Linked DNA regions of Homo sapiens: region 1 is linked to region 2. The links come from fine-mapping of genetic effects on gene expression. A gene starts in region 2. The other region holds a variant in brackets. All regions are shown on one strand. Distances are from middle to middle. Region 1 overlaps ATP2A2 (ATPase sarcoplasmic/endoplasmic reticulum Ca2+ transporting 2). Region 2 holds the start of PPTC7 (protein phosphatase targeting COQ7).

Evidence for each region. PIP is the estimated chance that this variant, and not a neighbour inherited with it, causes the effect. A credible set is the group of variants that fine-mapping cannot tell apart.
Region 1: its variant is the best candidate, but not a certain one, in a credible set for the expression of PPTC7 in blood mononuclear cells (TOPMed, PIP 0.66).

The regions. Positions count from the first base shown.
Region 1 is chr12:110,302,580-110,310,916 of GRCh38, reverse strand. The region is part of intron 5 of ATP2A2 (ATPase sarcoplasmic/endoplasmic reticulum Ca2+ transporting 2); the gene reads right to left. Among named protein-coding and RNA genes, the nearest start is that of ATP2A2, 26 kb to the right of the region's middle. The variant C/G (reference allele first, on the strand shown) is at 4,738.
Region 2 is chr12:110,578,504-110,586,840 of GRCh38, reverse strand. PPTC7 (protein phosphatase targeting COQ7) reads left to right here and starts at 3,523. Exons shown (of 6, transcript NM_139283.2): 1 at 3,523-4,032. The coding sequence starts at 3,810. RefSeq lists silencers at 3,371-3,700, 3,741-3,890 and an enhancer at 6,938-7,187.

The DNA of each region.
Region 1 (8,337 bases), 280 kb after region 2:
TGCCTTTTACTCAACTGCTTCAAAAGCAGTTTATACCTGCTACTAAATCTCAGTACTGCATGTTAACTGTCTGAAGTAAAAGTTTCCTTCCTTTAAATTGAAAGTTTTCTTCCTTTAAATTGCTGTCAAGTTTAAGAATTATTCTTTTTATTCCCGAGTAAATCTTGAAATTGCTGGCACCCTGTTGGCTATTAAGTCTTCATTTTAGGAAATAAAATTATCAATTTCTGTACAAGTGCTAAAGCAAATGCAATTTTAAGATTGTGTTGCTTCCACTACTTAAATCTTAAAAGATGATTCGCTCCAGAGTATATACTACAAGACAGAAGTCATCTGAGAATATTTATTTCCTGGTGCTATTCATCAACCCTGGGTTACCAAGATACATAAAGTTTGTTTTAAACAACCCTGAAAACAGTGTTCTTAAGAAGTCAATAAATAACCCCTGCGGCATATACTAGAAGCCCCAAAATTCTAAAACTAAGACTTCTAGCTGGGAATGGTGGCTCATGCCTGTAATCCCAGCACTTTGGGAGGCCAAGGGAAGAGGATCCCTTGAGCCCAGGAGTTTGAGACTAGGCTGGGTAATACAGGGAGACCTTGTCTCAAAAAAACATCCCACAAAACCATGGCCGGGCACGGTGGTTCATGCCTGTAATCCCAGCACTTTGGGAGGCCAAGGGAGGCAGATCACTTGAGGTCAGGAGTTCGAGACCAGCCTGGCCAACATGGTAAAATCCCGTCTCTACTTTAAAAAAAAAAAAGGAAAAAGAAAAAAAGAAAACAGAAATGACTTAGGCTATTATAGCTTGATTCACTTTCATGTCAGCAGATAATACAGAAAGCTTAAAAACAATGACGTTCATTTCTTATAAGATTATGTACAACTTCACTACTTTTGGTTTCCATCCATCCGGAGAAATATTTTCTTGGCCTTAAGATAATGTAGAATTACTGTGGCTTCTTAAGAGGTGAACATGTGGGTCACTTTCTCTTTTTTTTTTTTTTGAGTCAGGGTCTCACTCTGTTGCCCACGCTGGAGTGCAGTGGCTTAATTTCAGCTCACTGCCACAGCCTCGACCTCCTGGGCTCAGGTGATCCTCCCACCTCAGCTTTTCAAGTCGTTGGGACTACAGGTACGCACCACCACGCCTAGCTAATTTTTGTATTTTTTGTAGGGATGGGGTTTTACTATGTTGCCCAGGCTGGTCTCAAACTCCTGGACTCAAGTGATCTGCATGCCTTGGCCTCCCCCAAAAGTGCTGAGATTACAGGCATGAGCCACTGAGCACAGCCTATGTGCGGGTTATTTTCTCCATGTTTTTATTTGCCATATCAATTTCATTTGGCTCTTGTGTTCTAGATACTTAAGACTCACATTAGCATTTGCTATGTATGCTTACCCAGTTTCTCTTTGGAATGATTAGCTGGTATAGCAACATATAAAATTTAGTTTCCTGGCTGGGCATGGTGGCTCACACCTGTAATTCCAGCACTTTGGGAGGCTGAGGCGGGCGGATCACTTGAGGCCAGGAGTTCGAGACCAGCCTGGCCAACATGGTGAAACCCTGTCTCTACTAAAAATACAAAAATTAGCCGGGTGTGGTGGCGGGCACTTGTAATCCCTGCTACTAGGGAGGCTGAGGCAGGAGAATCGCTTGAACCCAGGAGGCGGAGGTTGCAGTGAGCTGAGATCACGCCCTTGCACTCCTGCCTGGGCGACAGAGTGAGATTCCATCTCAAAAAAAAAAAAAAAAAAAAAAAAAAAAAAAAAAATTAGTTTCCTTAAACTCTCTCTCCATATCTCCCTCAAAAAACCACCTATTCCAGCTTAGTCTTTGAAAAGTTCAGCCAGAACCATCCTACCAGATATCTTCCAAAAGCTGACAAAGAATTTTAAAGTCAGGAGATGACCCTTACATTCCAAACAGTGACTACAAAAAGGTCTGTTCCTTTCTGCAAATATCAAAATCGTTAAGTCAGTACTTTTTTATTTTCAGCTTCGAATTAGTTTACAACACTCTCCAGTTTTCCAACACATCTGAAAAACCCCTTCACATCCAATTTCATAATGTAAATGAAAATATAAAAGTCACCATGTCTAAAAGCACAATTTATGCCATTTAATCTTTCAGGCTACGCAAATAGTACCTTCGACTGACAAGAAAAAATTCAGAATTAAAGTTCACTCTATAGTTTTCACAAAACTGAATTATCAGGCTAAATGCTAGATTGCACAGTCAATTTGATTACTAATTCTAAAAGAGGTGGAAGTTTAAAAGGCTCAACGTGTATAGTCTTAATAAAATAAATACCTATTTATCTGGCCCAGGTTATACAGTCACGGTATGCTTTTCCAAAATGTTCCATATAATAGTTGCAAATGCCTTAGAATTATATCTTACCCAATTCAATGACCTGCTGGTCCTAGTAACCCAGCAAACTATCATTTCTGATTTGCATATAAGTTTACAAACACCATGAAAGGTCACCAGAGTATACTGACAACCTAAATATTACAGCTGTAACTAGGCTTCCTCAACATGATAAAGGGCACCCGCCTATGAGACCCACACCTATGTCACACTTCACTGTGAAGGACTGGATGCTTTCCCCTACGATCAGTAAGACAAGGATGTCTGCTCTTGGTACTTCAACGTTGTATTGGAGATTCTAACCAGGGCAATTAGGCAAGAAATAAAGGGCATCCAGACTAGAAAGAAGTAAAAACATTTTCATTTGCAAATGCATGATCTTGTATATAGAAAATCTTAAGGAACCCATAAAAACTATTAAAACTAACTAATGAGTTCAGCAAGATGGCAAACTACAAGATCAATACGTAAAAAACTATTTCTACACGCTAGCAAAGAACAATCTGAAAATGAAATTGAAAAAAGAATTCCTAACTCAAGGCAAATTAAAGACTTAAATGTAAGGCCTCAAACTGTAAATATCCTAGAAGAAAACCTAGGAAATACTCTTCTCAACACTGCCCTAAGCAAAGAATTTATGACTAAGCCTCAAAAGCAAATGCAACAAATAACTTGACAATTGGGACCTAGTTAAACGAAAGAGTTTCTGCACAGCAGAAGAAATCTATCAACAGAGTAAACTGACAACCTACAGAATTGGAGAAAATAATTGCAAACTATGCACTCAACAAAGGACTAATATCCAGAATCTATAAGGAACTTAAATCCACACACAAACACACACACAAAATCACTGTTGAAAAGTGGGCAAAGGGTATGAAAAGACACTTCTCAAAAGACAACAATCAAGTAGTCAACATAGGAAAAAATGCTCAACATCACTAGTAGAGAGATGCAAATCAAAACCACAATGAGATGTCATCTCACACCAGTCAGAGTGACTATTATTGCTGGGCACGGTGGCTCACGCTTGTAATCCCAGCACTTTGGGAAGCTGAGGTGGGAGGATCACTGGAGCCCAGGAATTCAACTACTAGCCAGGGCAACATAGTAAGACCTCATCTCTACGAAAAAATTTAAAAATGAGCCTGTCATAGTGGTGTGTGCCTACAGTCCCAGCTAACCTGGAAGGCTCAGGTGGGAGGGTCACTAGAGCCTGGAAAGCCATGGCTCAATGAGCTATAATCATGCCACTGTGTTCCAGCCTGGGCAACAGACTGAGATCCTGCCTCAAAAAAAAAGAAAAAAAAAAAAAAAAAGGTGGTGGGGCTGGGGGGAACACTTATACACTGCTGGCAAGAATGTAAACTAGTTCAGCCCCCGTGGAAAGCTGTTTGGAGATTTCTCAAGAAACTAAAAACAGAATGACCATTCAACCCAGCGATCCCATTACTGGGTATATATCCCAAGAAAAAGAAATTGTGGCCGGGCGTGGTGGCTCACACCTGTAATCTCAGCACTTTCGGAGGCCAAGGTGGGTGAATCACTTGAGCCCAGGAATTCGAGACCAGCCTGGGCAACATGGTGAGACCTTATCTGTACGAAAAATACAAAAATTAGTTGGGCGTGGTGGGCATCTGTAGTTCCAGCTACAAGGAGGCTGAGGTGGGAGGATGGCCTGAACTCACAAGGAGGCTGAAGTGGGAGGATGGCTTGAGCTTGGGAGGTGGAGGTTGCACTGAGCCAAAATCGCACCACTGCACTCCAGCCTGGGCGACAGAGTGAGACCCTATCTCAAAAATAAATGTGGTATATATACACCATGTGATACTACGCAGCCATGCAAAAGAATGAAATCATGTCTTTTCCAGCAAAATGGATGCAGCCAGAGACTATTATCCTAAGTGAGTTAACCCAGAAAACCAAATACTGTCTGTTCTCACTTGTAAGTAGGAGCTAAACACTGAGTACACATAGCCATTAAGATGGGAACAATAAACACTGGGCACTCCAAAAAGTGGGAGGGAAAGAGGGGCGAGGGCTGAAAAACTATCTGTGAAGTACTATACTCATCATCTATACTCATCATCTGGATGACAGGATCAGCAGAAGCCCAAACCTCAGCATCACACATTAAATCCACATAACAAACCTGCACATGTACCTTGAATCTAAAAATTTTAATTAAAAATAAATATCACTAGGCCGGGCGCGGTGGCTCACGCCTGTAATCCCAGTACTTTGGGAGGCCAAGGCGGGTGGATCACGAGGTCAGGAGATCGAGACCATCCTGGCTAACATGGTGAAACCCTGTCTCTACTAAAAATACAAAAACATTAGCTGGGCATGGTGGCAGGCGCCT[C/G]TGGTCCCAGCTACTGGGGAGGCTGAGGCAGGAGAATGGCGTGAACCCGAGAGGCGGAGCTTGCAGTGAGCAGAGATCGTGCCACTGCACTCCAGCCTGTCATAGCGGTGAAAGAGCGAGACTCCGTCTCAAAAATAAATAAATAAATAAATATCACCAATAGGCCAATTTCAAGTTACAAAAAATTATTCCAATTACAAATATTCCCCCCGCCAAAAATGCAATAACAAAAGAAGCACAAGACTTGAACACTGACAACCAGTGTTGAAAGAAATGACAGACCTTAAAAAAAAAAAACAAAAAAAAAACAGACATCCCTATGCTCATGGATCCAAAGACTTGATATTACGACCATATTTCCCAAACTCATCTATAGATACAACACAATTCTTACTGAAAATACCAGCTTGCTTTCTGCAGAAATTGACAAGCAACTCTTAAAAATTTATATGTAAATGTAAGGAACCCAGAATGCCCAAAATTATCTTGAACAAAGTTACACTCCCAAGTTCCCAATTTCAAAAAATACAAAACGACAGCTAGCTATCAAGACAGTATGGTACTGACCTAAAGACAGAGATCAATGGAGTAAGAATAGAGTCTAGAAATACATTCTTGCATTTGTAAATTAATTTTTCACAAAGGTTGCAGGACAAATTAGTGAAGAAATCTTTTCAACAAATGGTGCTGAGACAACTAAATATCCACATGCAAAAGAAAGCAGCTGGATCTCCTACCTCACACCATAGTTTTTGCTGTTGTTGCTGTTTTTAAAGAGGCAAGGTCTTGCTTTGTTGCCTAGGGTGGAGGACAGTGGCAGGATCATAGTAGCTCACTGCAGCCTCCACTCTTGGGCTCAAGTCATCTTCGTACCTCTGCCTCCTGAGTAGTGAGACTACAGGCCTGTACCACCTTGCCTGGCTAATTTAAAAGTGTTTTTTTCCTAGGCTGGGCATGGTGGCTCTTGCCTATAATCGCAGCACTTTGAGAGGCTGAGGCAGGCGGATCATTTGAAGTCAGGAGTTCAAGACCAGCCTGGCCAAAACGGTGAAACCCCGTTTCTACTAAAAATACAAAAATTAGCTGAGTGTGGTGGTGTGCACCTGTAATCCCAGCTACTCGGGAGACTGAGGCGGGAGAATCGCTTGAACCCAGGAGGCGGAGGTTGCACTGAGCCGAGATCATGCCACTCGCTGCACTCCAGCCTGGACAACAGAGCAAGACTCCGTCTCAAAAAGAAAAAAAAAAGTGGTTTTTCCTGCCTCAGCCTCCCAAAGTGCTGGGATCATATAGGTATGAGCCACGACGCCTGGATCATATATACTGGCTAATATATAAAGTCTTTGTGACCTTCAATTGGCAACAGTTTCTTAGACATCACACCAAAAGCACAAGCAACAACAATGTATAAGTGGACTTTATCATATTAAAAACTTGTATGTTACAAAGTATGCCATCAAGAAAGTGAAAAAAAGGAATCCCTATAGAATGGGGAAAAAATTTTGCTAATCACACCTCATAAGGCAGGATATGTAAAGAATTCTTATACCTCAACATTAAAAAGACAAATAACCTAATTTAAACAGGCATTTCTCCAAAGAAAACACACCGATGGACAATAGCCACATGAAAAGATGCCCAACATCATTAAGAAATTAGGGAAACGGACGTCAAAACCACAATGATACTCACTTCCTGGGTAAAACTTTAAAACGATAGACAATGACATGTCTTGACAAGGATGTAGAGAAACTGGAACTTGTATACATTGTTGGTGGGAATGTAGAACAATATCACCACCATTCTGAAAGACAGTTTGGTAGCTGCTCAAAATGTTAAGTATAGAGTCACTATAGGCCCCATAATTCCATGCTTAGGTACATACCTAACAGAGAGAAAATGTTATGTTCACACAAAAATTAGTACAAGCATGTATGTACAAGTTATAGCACTATTCATTACTCATAATAGACCAAAACTGGAAACAACCCAAATGTCCATCAACTAATAAACATTATTCAGCAGTAAGGAATGAAATACATGCTATATTCATGAACGAAATGTAACACTATGCTAAGAGAAAGCCAGTCACCAAGATTGACTCCATTTATATGCAATATCCAGAAAAACAGACAGTAATCCACAAAACAGATAATAAACTGTGGTTGTCAGGAACTGGTGGGAGGAAAACAGGGCAACAACTGCTAATGGGTATGGGTTTTTCTGAGGGTGATGAAAATGTTCTGGAATTAAGATAATAATGAGGATCACACAGACCTTGAATATACTAATAATCTGGCATTCAATAATTGTATTGAAGGCCAGGTGCAGTGGCTCACGCCTGTAATCCCAGCACTTTGGGAGGCTGAGGCAGGTGGATCGCTTGAGGCCAGAAATTCAAGACTTGCCGGGCCAACATGGCCAAACTCTGCCTCTACTAAAAATACAAAAATATTAGCCAGGCGTGGCTGGGCGCGGTGGCTCATGCCTGTAATCAATCCCAGCACTTTGGGAGGCCGAGGAGGATGGATCACGAGGTCAGGGGCTTGAGACCATCCTGGCCAACACGGTGAAACCCCGTCTCTACTAAAAAATACAAAAATTAGCTGGGCGTGGTGGTACGTGCCTATAATCTCAGCTACTCGGGAGGCTGAGGCAGGAGAATCGCTTGAACCAGGGAGTCGGAGGTTGCAGTGAGCCAAGATCATGCCACTGCACTCCAGCCTGGCAACAGAGCGAGACTCGTCTCAAAACAAACAAACAAACAAACAAACAAAAAAGCAAGCAAGCCAGGCATAATGGCCCAAGCCTGTAATCCCAGCTACTCGGGAGACTGAAGCAGGAGAATCACTTGAAACTGGGAGGTACACAGGTTGCAGTGAGCCGAGATCACACCACTGCACTAGAGCCTGGGTGACAGAACAAGACTCTGTCTGTATAATATTATAATAATAATTGTATTGAACACACACATACACTTCAACTGTTTGTTCTGCACAGCAACTATGTTTACATTAGCTGAGCCTATCATATACTTCTGATTTCAAATTTCATTCATAGAGAACTTACGATAACGTTACAACAGTCAATATGACAGTTCTGTCCTTAAGGTGCTCACTGCCTAGTAGTATGACAACAGTATTTAATAAAATGCCCACATACATTCTAAACCTAGATGTCTGTTCTGCATTACTCAGTTAAAAAGGTCACAATTTAAGACGAAAGCAAGCAGCACTTAAGAGCCCAATGTCTCACACAGCTGGGCTTAACTAAAATAATAATAGGCCAGGCACGGTGGCTCACGCCTGTAATCCCAGCACTTTGGGAGGCCGAGGTGAGTGGGTCACGAGGCCAGGAGTTTGAGACCAGCCTGGCCAATATGGCAAAACCCCATCTCTACTACAACTACAAAAATCAGCTGGGTGTGGTGGTGCATGCTGGTGAGCCCAGCTAATTGGGAGGCTGAGGCACAAGAATCACTTGAACAGGCAGGCAGAGGTTGCAGTGAACCGAGATCACGCTACTGCATTCCAGCCTGCACAGCAGAGTGAGACCCTGTCTCAAAATAGTAATAATAATAATAATAATAATAATAGTAAT
Region 2 (8,337 bases):
ATTCATTGAATATCCTTTTCCTCCTCTTGAGCTGGTTATGCCGCATGACAGACAGAGAGACTTGTCTGTCCGTTCAGGCCTCTCACAAATGTCATGTCTTTGTGAAGTGCCCCAGGTGTTCTCTAACCCCAGAGGGTCTCATTTCCCCTTCCCAGACCCCTCCTTTATTTCAGCTTGTGGTGCTTATTATTATTTTATTTATTTACTTTGAGCCAGAGCCTTGCTCTGTTGCCCCAGCTGGAGTGCAGTGGCGTGATCTTGGCCTATTGCAACCTCTACTTCCCGGGTTCAAGTGATTCTCCTGCCTTAGCCTCCCAACTAGCTGGGATCACAGGCGTGCACCACCATTCCCAGCTAATTTTTGTATTTTTAGTAGACCCAGGGTTTCGCCATGTTGGCCAGGCTGGTCTCGAACTTCTGACCTCAAGTGATCCACCCCCCACTCGGCCTCCCAAAGTGCTGGGATTACAGGCATTAGCCACCGCACCCAGTCTGTTATTATTATTTTAATACATTTACTTAATTTTAACCTTCCTACTGCACTGTGACTGCCACAAAATCACTGATTTTTTTTATCCTTAGCCTAGAGACTTGAACATAATAAGTGCTCAACAAATATTTGCTCATTTGCATGGCATTGCCGTAATACAGTGGCTCTAAATCAGGGAGCAATTTTGCCCCCCAGGGGACATTTGGCAATATCTGGAGACAGTTTTGGTTGTCCTGGGGGCACAGAGGTGGCATGCTTCTGGCTTCTAGTGGGTAGAGGCCAGGGATGCTGCTAAGCCCCCTCCAACGCATGCACAGGACAGCCCTAACAGCAAAGAATCATCCTGCCCAAAATGTCAATAGTGTCAAGCTTGAGACACCTTGCTGTAAGCTAATTAGTGCTCATTGTGAATAGGTTAGCAAAAAGGAACCCAAAGAGATCAACCTACCAGTCTGGCAGAAAATCTCACTAGGAAATGTCATGCCTTCTTTTTGTTGTTGTTGTTTGTTTGGTTTTTTTAGGAGCGGAGGCTGACTTTAGTGCAAAGCTCTTTCCTAATGTCATAGAGGTGCCCTGGGAGCCCAGATGGTATTTTCACCACACTTGTTCACCTTTAAGAGTGGCAACTGACCTCTCAGGAATCCCTGAAGTGCTAGGAATGTAACTCTGTTAAGGAAGAAAATCCAGGCCTTTTTAAGTCCAACAAAATGTCAAACGTGAATTGTGTTCCTGGGAGAAGGAACGGGAAGGGAGGTGTTTTGTAAAGTACCCTCTCCTGGCTTCCCCCATGGTGATGAAACTTCAGAGCTGGCTCTGGAATAAATGATTCAAGAGAACCCGAGGCCCTATCTCCTGTTCCTTTAAAACTTGCAAAGGAGCTTTGAGAAGGATTCTGTTCGCCACGTGCTTCTGTGGGCAACTCATTTGCAGGAAACTCACTTGCAGGAAATTCATTTGCCGGAAACTCAAGGCACTGGTATCACTTAATCATGAAAACAGCAGCCCCATCGGAGCAGAAGTTACTGGCTTTAGAGTCACATTTTAGGTTCCTACTCATCCCATCAAACCAGTTCTTGTGACTGACATGGAAATTAGGTAATATATGCCCTGAAAAGGAAAAGTAGGAGCAGTCTGAAGGAGTTTGACGAGGCAAGAAATAGGGTTGACATGCTATTTTAAAAAGTTTGTCCTTGGGGTAGAATTACCTGCCAGACTGACTGGGATCTGGTAGTGGTATGTGTACTTGAAAGAGCTACCTTTAGCACAGCTGGCAGCAATATAAATGCCAAGTAGAGGATTCCGAGAGGCACTACCCCCTCTTCTGGGCACTCTCCAATTCTTGTGCCATTAAAAAAAAGGAAGGTGTGAATGCATTATTGTCATTACTATACCATTTATCCAGTAAATGAACATTTTCTGGGTTCTGTATATTTGACAAAATGCCACTACGTGAAGTCATTTCTTCCGTCCAATTTTGATGAAAGCTCTTAAAGACAGAAACATATATATAGACAGTACTTGGCACACTGTGAACTGCAAAAGTGTTTAATGATGACAGTAATTAGGATAACGGAATAATATGTGTTGAGTTGATAGTTGGCAGCATTTTAAATATATTAAGAAAGCATAAAAAAGGACCATTTAAAAACGAGGTGGGAATCCCCAAAGTAACAATGGTCTTGTTAAAAGTGAACTAGAAAAAGACTGCTGTTTCTGAGAAATATATGTTTCAATCAAACTAAAAATTACTCTAAATTGAATTACTTGCCCCAAAGCTCATTTTCTGTTGTTTGTGAACCCCATTCACTCAATCATTCCTGTATTCAACAAACATGACTTTCTTTTATCATTTGTGTTCTTATTCCATTACTCCTTCCTTTTTTTTTTTTTGAGATGGAGTCCAGCTCTGTCTCCCAGGCTGGAATGCAGTGGCGCTGTCTCGGCTCACTGCAACCTCTGCCTCCCAGGTTCAAGCGATTCTCCTGTCTCAGCCTCCTGAGTAGCTGGCATTACAATCGTTTGTCACCAAGCCCAGCTAATTTTTTTTTGTATTTTCAGTAGAGACCATGTTGGCCAGGCTGGTGTTGAACTCCTGACCTCAAGTGATCTGCCCACCTCGGCCTTCCAAAGTGCTGGGATTACAGGTGTGAGCCACCACGCCCAGCCCATTATTCCTTCTTTTATTCCACAGACATTTACACACTCTCCTACTGTGTGCCAGGCATTGCTTTAGATTCTAATAATTGAGCAGCAAATGATCCTTGTCCTTGGGAAACTTAGAATCTAGTGAAATATTCATTCATTCTTTCATTCATTCACATATTTACTGGGTGCTCACGTGTTCTGGGGATACAGCAACAGAAAACACAGGACCCTCAGGTAAACGAATTACATTCCAAAGGGTAGAAGCGAAAGCAAGGGCAAAGGTCTTGAGACAGCTGTGAGCATGGCTAGAGGCCAGTTAGCAAAAGGGACATGACACCATCTGTGTCCCCTCCCACTCTGATAGGGACACATAACATTTTCTCAATTTTTCCTAAAAGACTACAAAAAGTCTCTTCTTTCCAAACAGTTTGCCGCCCTAAATCCTTCCAGTATATTACTTGGGGAGGTGTCACTAGATCTGTGTACCTCTGTTTCTCATTATGTGACTCCATTCTGGTTTCTTGCAGGTTTTTGTTTAAAGGAATGGTGGCGTTATTTATTTAAAACAGGCTTTAAAAGATACGGTTAAAACAGGGTAGAAAACCCTCACGTGGCCCACCTGCAATTCCTACTAACTTAACATAGGTCCCGCGTCTGAGGAATCCCCCTAGGTCCTAAATCTTTGGCAGCCAAGTCAAAAGTGACTACGACTCCGGGACTATAATTCCCAAGAGACACTGCGTCCGCACCCTCTGCGCATGTTCAACCTTGGTGACTGCATAAGGCAGCGAGCCCAAGGGGCTGGGCTTGGGCCTGAGCGGTGAATCGGGGCGGGGCTAGGGGCAGGGCCAGGGAGGGGGCGGTGCTGCCGGCACCGCCCGGAACACGCTAGTGGAGCGGAAGATGGCGGCGGCGGCGGCGGCCGCTGCAGCCGGGACTTCAGTTGGGCTGAGGCGGAGGAGCCGCCGCTTCTGACCTCGCTCTGGCTCCGGTGCGCGCGGCTGAGCGCGTGCGAGGCCCCGCGCGTCGGGCAGGGGCGGCGGCGGCCACTGCGCGCCGCCCTGAGGAGCGCCCCAGCGGCGGCGCGACTGCGGCTGAGGAGAGAGCCGGCTCCGGGCCTCCGCGTCCTCCTGCTCCCCCGGCCCCCCGCCTCCTCGGGGGGGCGGCGGCGGCGATGTTCTCGGTCCTCTCGTACGGGCGGCTGGTGGCCCGCGCCGTGCTCGGCGGCCTCTCGCAGACCGACCCCAGGGCCGGCGGCGGCGGCGGCGGCGACTACGGACTGGTGACGGCCGGCTGCGGCTTCGGGAAGGACTTCCGTAAGGGCCTCCTCAAGAAGGGCGCGTGCTACGGGGACGACGCGTGCTTCGTGGCCCGGCACCGTTCCGCGGACGTGCTCGGTGAGTCCCCGACCCGGTTCCCTTGCCCCAGCCTCGGATCCGCCTCCCGGGGACTCCCCGCGCGGGGCTTCCCCAGTTCCTCCCGGCGGCGAAAGGAGCCAGAGCGCTCACATGGAGGGAGCGCTTACTATGCGCCAGGCGCCGTGCCAAGCGCTCCGAGGCGCGTTTTCCGCTTGAACGACCCCCATTTTAGAGAGGAGGAAACTAAGGCGCACAGCGGTCAAGTCGTGTGCTCAAGGTCACAACCCGAGAGTGTGACCGGTCTGTCCGAGTCCAGAGCCACACTCTCGGTCTCACTCGGCCGTGCCAGCCCTGGGCGACCTCGTCCCCTCCCTGGGCGACACCTGCAGGCTCCTAACCTCGTTCTGGTTCCCTCTCCGCATGCCCCGGGGATCCCTGCCTCTTCGCGTGCTCCCGACACCACAGCCCGGCCCAGGCTGCGGGATCGCCGGCCGACAGGCAGTCGTGAGCCCCCAGACAGCCCGGCCGTATTCTTTCGCCGCCTGGATGGTAACCAAATCTTCACCCTTTTCGGAGTGTGGCGGTGGGGGCTGCTGGCTTGGCGAAAAAACCCTCACAGCGTTTTCTCCCAAATTGATCTTGTCCACTTGCGGTCACTTGGGGGTTGGCAGAGTCTCCTTGATCCAAAATAGAATGGTCGAGCCTACTTGTAGATTGCAGCCGGTAAAGCTCTGAGGATTGGTCACAGCCTTTTCAGGCCACAGGTGCTCCCTGAGGCCTATTCCAGTTATACCTTTTGGGGGTGGGAGACTACGGAGAGAGCTGGCAGAAAGGGCTAAATATAGTTCACAAGCAGTCAGAAACTTTACCATAATGTACGCCTTAGGAGATTTTGTGTATGCTATGGGATATTGTGCCGTTAAAACTCTTTGAATGAATAAAGCAATGCGCTCGCTTTGAAATTGAAGGACGTGTTGTCATTGAACTTGGGTTCAAATGTCACTTTGATTTCCCTTCCCAGGTGAGACTAAGTTTTTGGTTACTTTAAATTTCATATGCTGAGGCAGAGTTTGGCATTGGAACAAATGATTCTGTAACTTTTTTATGACAGTAATTATTTTTTAATCTGATCTCAGAATAATTGCCTAGTATCTTTGGTTCTACTACATGTAGTGTTTGTGAACATGGGACTGGAAAGGTTGTTCTCAGTTTAATTTATGAATGACCCCATTACCTGGGTTGAAGAAAAAGCATTTAATGTTTAGGCAACGCTATTGATATTAACATGAGAGGGAGACTTAGAAAGGTCCTGCAGCTTGCAGATTGAAATTGTACAAATCCACCCCGAAGTCAGCTGTCAGTGGCTGTCTTCCCTGATACATTTAGAAGTGCCTCACTCAATGAGCTTGTGACCTGTGCTGCGTTTTTTTTTTTCAGACGGAGTCTACCTCTGTCACTCAGGCTGGAGTGCAGTGGCGCAATCTTGGCTCACTGCAGCCTCCGCCTCCCCGGTTCAAGCGATTCTCCTGCTTCAGCCTCCCGAGTAGCTGGGATTATAGGCGCCCATCACCATGTCCAGCTAATTTTTGTATTTTTAGTAGAGATGGGGTTTCACTGTGTTGGCCAGGCCGGTCTCGAACTCCTGACCTCGTGATCGGCCTCGTGTTCGCCTCGGCCGCCCAAGGTGCTGGGATTACAAGTGTGAGCCTGGCCCCTGTGTTGCTTCTTAAAGTTGTGTTCATAACATAGGATAGGGGATAATGAGCCTCTAAGGTTCACCTCATAAATCTGTATGCTGGGCTGCGCGTGGTGGCTCACTCCTATAATCCCAGCACTTTGGGAGGCTGAGGCGGGTGGATCATGAGGTCAAGAGTTCAAGACCAGACTGACCAATATGGTGAAACCCAGTCTTTACTAAAAATACAAAAATTAGCCGGGCGTGATGGCGCATGCCTATAGTCCCAGCTACTCAACAGGCTGAGGCAGGAGAATCTCTTGAACCAGGGAGGTGGAGGCTTCAGTGAGCCAAGATCGTGCCACTGCACTCCAGACTGGGCGACAGTGCGAGACTCCGTCTCAAAAAAAAAATAAAATAAAAAATCTGTATGCGACTTTTGTGAAAGATCCGTGACTTGATTGATGATTTGGGGAGTATTTAAATGTATCAAATTCTATATGGAAGCTTGATTTTAAAATTTTGGAAGGCTAGACCGGGCGTGGTGGCTCACGCCTGTAATCCCAGCACTTTGGGAGGCGGAGGTGGGCGGATCACCTGAGGTTAGGAGTTCGAGACCAGCCTGGCCAACATGGCAAAACCCCGTCTCTACTAAAAAATACAAAAATTAGGCAGGTGTGGTGGCACACGCCTGTAGTCCCAGCTACTAGCGAGGCTGAGGCAGGAGAATTGCTTGAACCTGGGAGATGGAGGTTGCGGTGAGCCGAGATCACACCACTGCACTCCAGCCTGGGTAACAGAGCAAGACTCCGTCTCAAAAAAAATACAATAAAATTTTGGAAGGCTACCTTCTTAATGGAGTGGGATATTTACAAGAATTGGGGGGATTTTGGTCAAACCCATTCTAAAAAAGTATAAACATAATTTCATGCCCTGACATCCTGGTGGAAATCCAGTGAACTTTGATGCTCAGCTTTGCCACTTAGTAGCTCTGTGATTTGTGGTCTTGGGCAGAGTCTCTCTTGAGTCTCCTTTGGTTTATCTGGACTAGGGGATAAAGGGAATGGACGATCTGACCCTTAGTGACTACAGCTTCTGACCATCATATCACATTTTCTTTTGTTCTTTTCTTTTTTTTTTTTGGTGGGTGGGGGGTGCGGGTATGGAGTTTCGCTCTTGTTGCCCAGGCTGGAGTGCAATGGCGCCATCTCGGCTCACTGCAACCTCCGCCTCCCGGGTTTAAGTGATTCCCCTGCCTCAGCCACCTGAGTAGCTGGGATTACAGGCGCGCGCCATCACGCCCGGCTAATTTTTGTATTTTTAGTACAAACGGGGTTTCATCATGTTGGCCAGGCTGTACTCGAACTCCTAACCCCAGGTGATCCACCAGCCTCGGCCTCCCAAACTGCTGGGATTACAGGCATGAACCACCGCGCCCAGCCCATATTTTACTTTTGCTTTGAATAGATGGCACCCTTTGTTCTGCACCTCAAATGACAGGTGTCACGGGCACCTTCAGTAGATTCCTGTTTTGTATGTAGCACTAAACCAGTGGTTTTTAGCTTTCCTTGATTCACAACCCCTGAGGATCAGGACCCTGTGCACAGAGATAAAATTTTGCATGGGCTCTTAGGAACTTTGCTGACTCCATGACTCCTCTGATACCACCTGGAGGTCCATGCATAGGAATCAGATCAAGAACCCCAGCTCTGTACCCTTGAAGGGAATGCCAGCAGACACAGTCAGATACTGGTAGCTGATGTGACCAAAAGGTGGTTGTTAGCCATGTTTGACAAAGATCAAGCATGCACATATGCAAATGGTGGGGGATAGGGGCAGTGAAGGACAGGTTCTCCAGGACTGTCCTGTTGTGGAGGAGCTCTTCCGGACGGCAGTCTTGGAAGCCACCTGAAATAACTTCATGAGTTGGCCTCATTTGATCCTTGGCTGTCCTGAACCAGTTCATATGATGGTGACTTCTATTTAGTTGATACCGTAAAAGGTGATGACTTTTTTTTTTTTTTGAGATAGAGTCTTGCTCTGCCACCCAGGCTGGAGTGCAGTGGCACGATTTTGGCTCGCTGCAACCTCTGCCTCCCAGCTTCAAGCGATTCTTGTGCCTCAGCCTTCCGAGTAGCTGGGACTACAGGCATGTGCCACCTCACCCGGCTAATTGTTTGTATTTTTTTAGTAGAGATGAGGTTTCGCCACGTTGCCTAGGCTGGTGTCGAACTCCTGACCTCATGTCATCCACCTGCCTCAGCCTCCCAAAGTGCTAGGATTACAGGTGTGAGCCACAGTGTCTGGCTAAGGTGATGACTTTGAATGACTCTTTAATACTGCTGTCAACTCTAGAGGTTGGAGTTACAACCTGAATTACATTAAAAGGCTATGTTGAGTAATAACGTTACGTTGAACTTAAGTGCTTTTGAACCTTTTGGTTCTGTAGATAATTAATTTTCTTTGAATTGACACCATATTTATTACTGAGTATCCGTGTAACAGATTATTCACTGTGGTCATCTAGGACTCCTTGACTGGAATGAAAGCTGTTTCTTTCTTTTTATATGAGAAAGAGAAATCTCTTTTGTTTCTTTAATTTAAAATTGATCTGTCCTATTAGTCATGCAGTGACTAATAGTGCTTGGTGCTTCACAACATTTTGTATA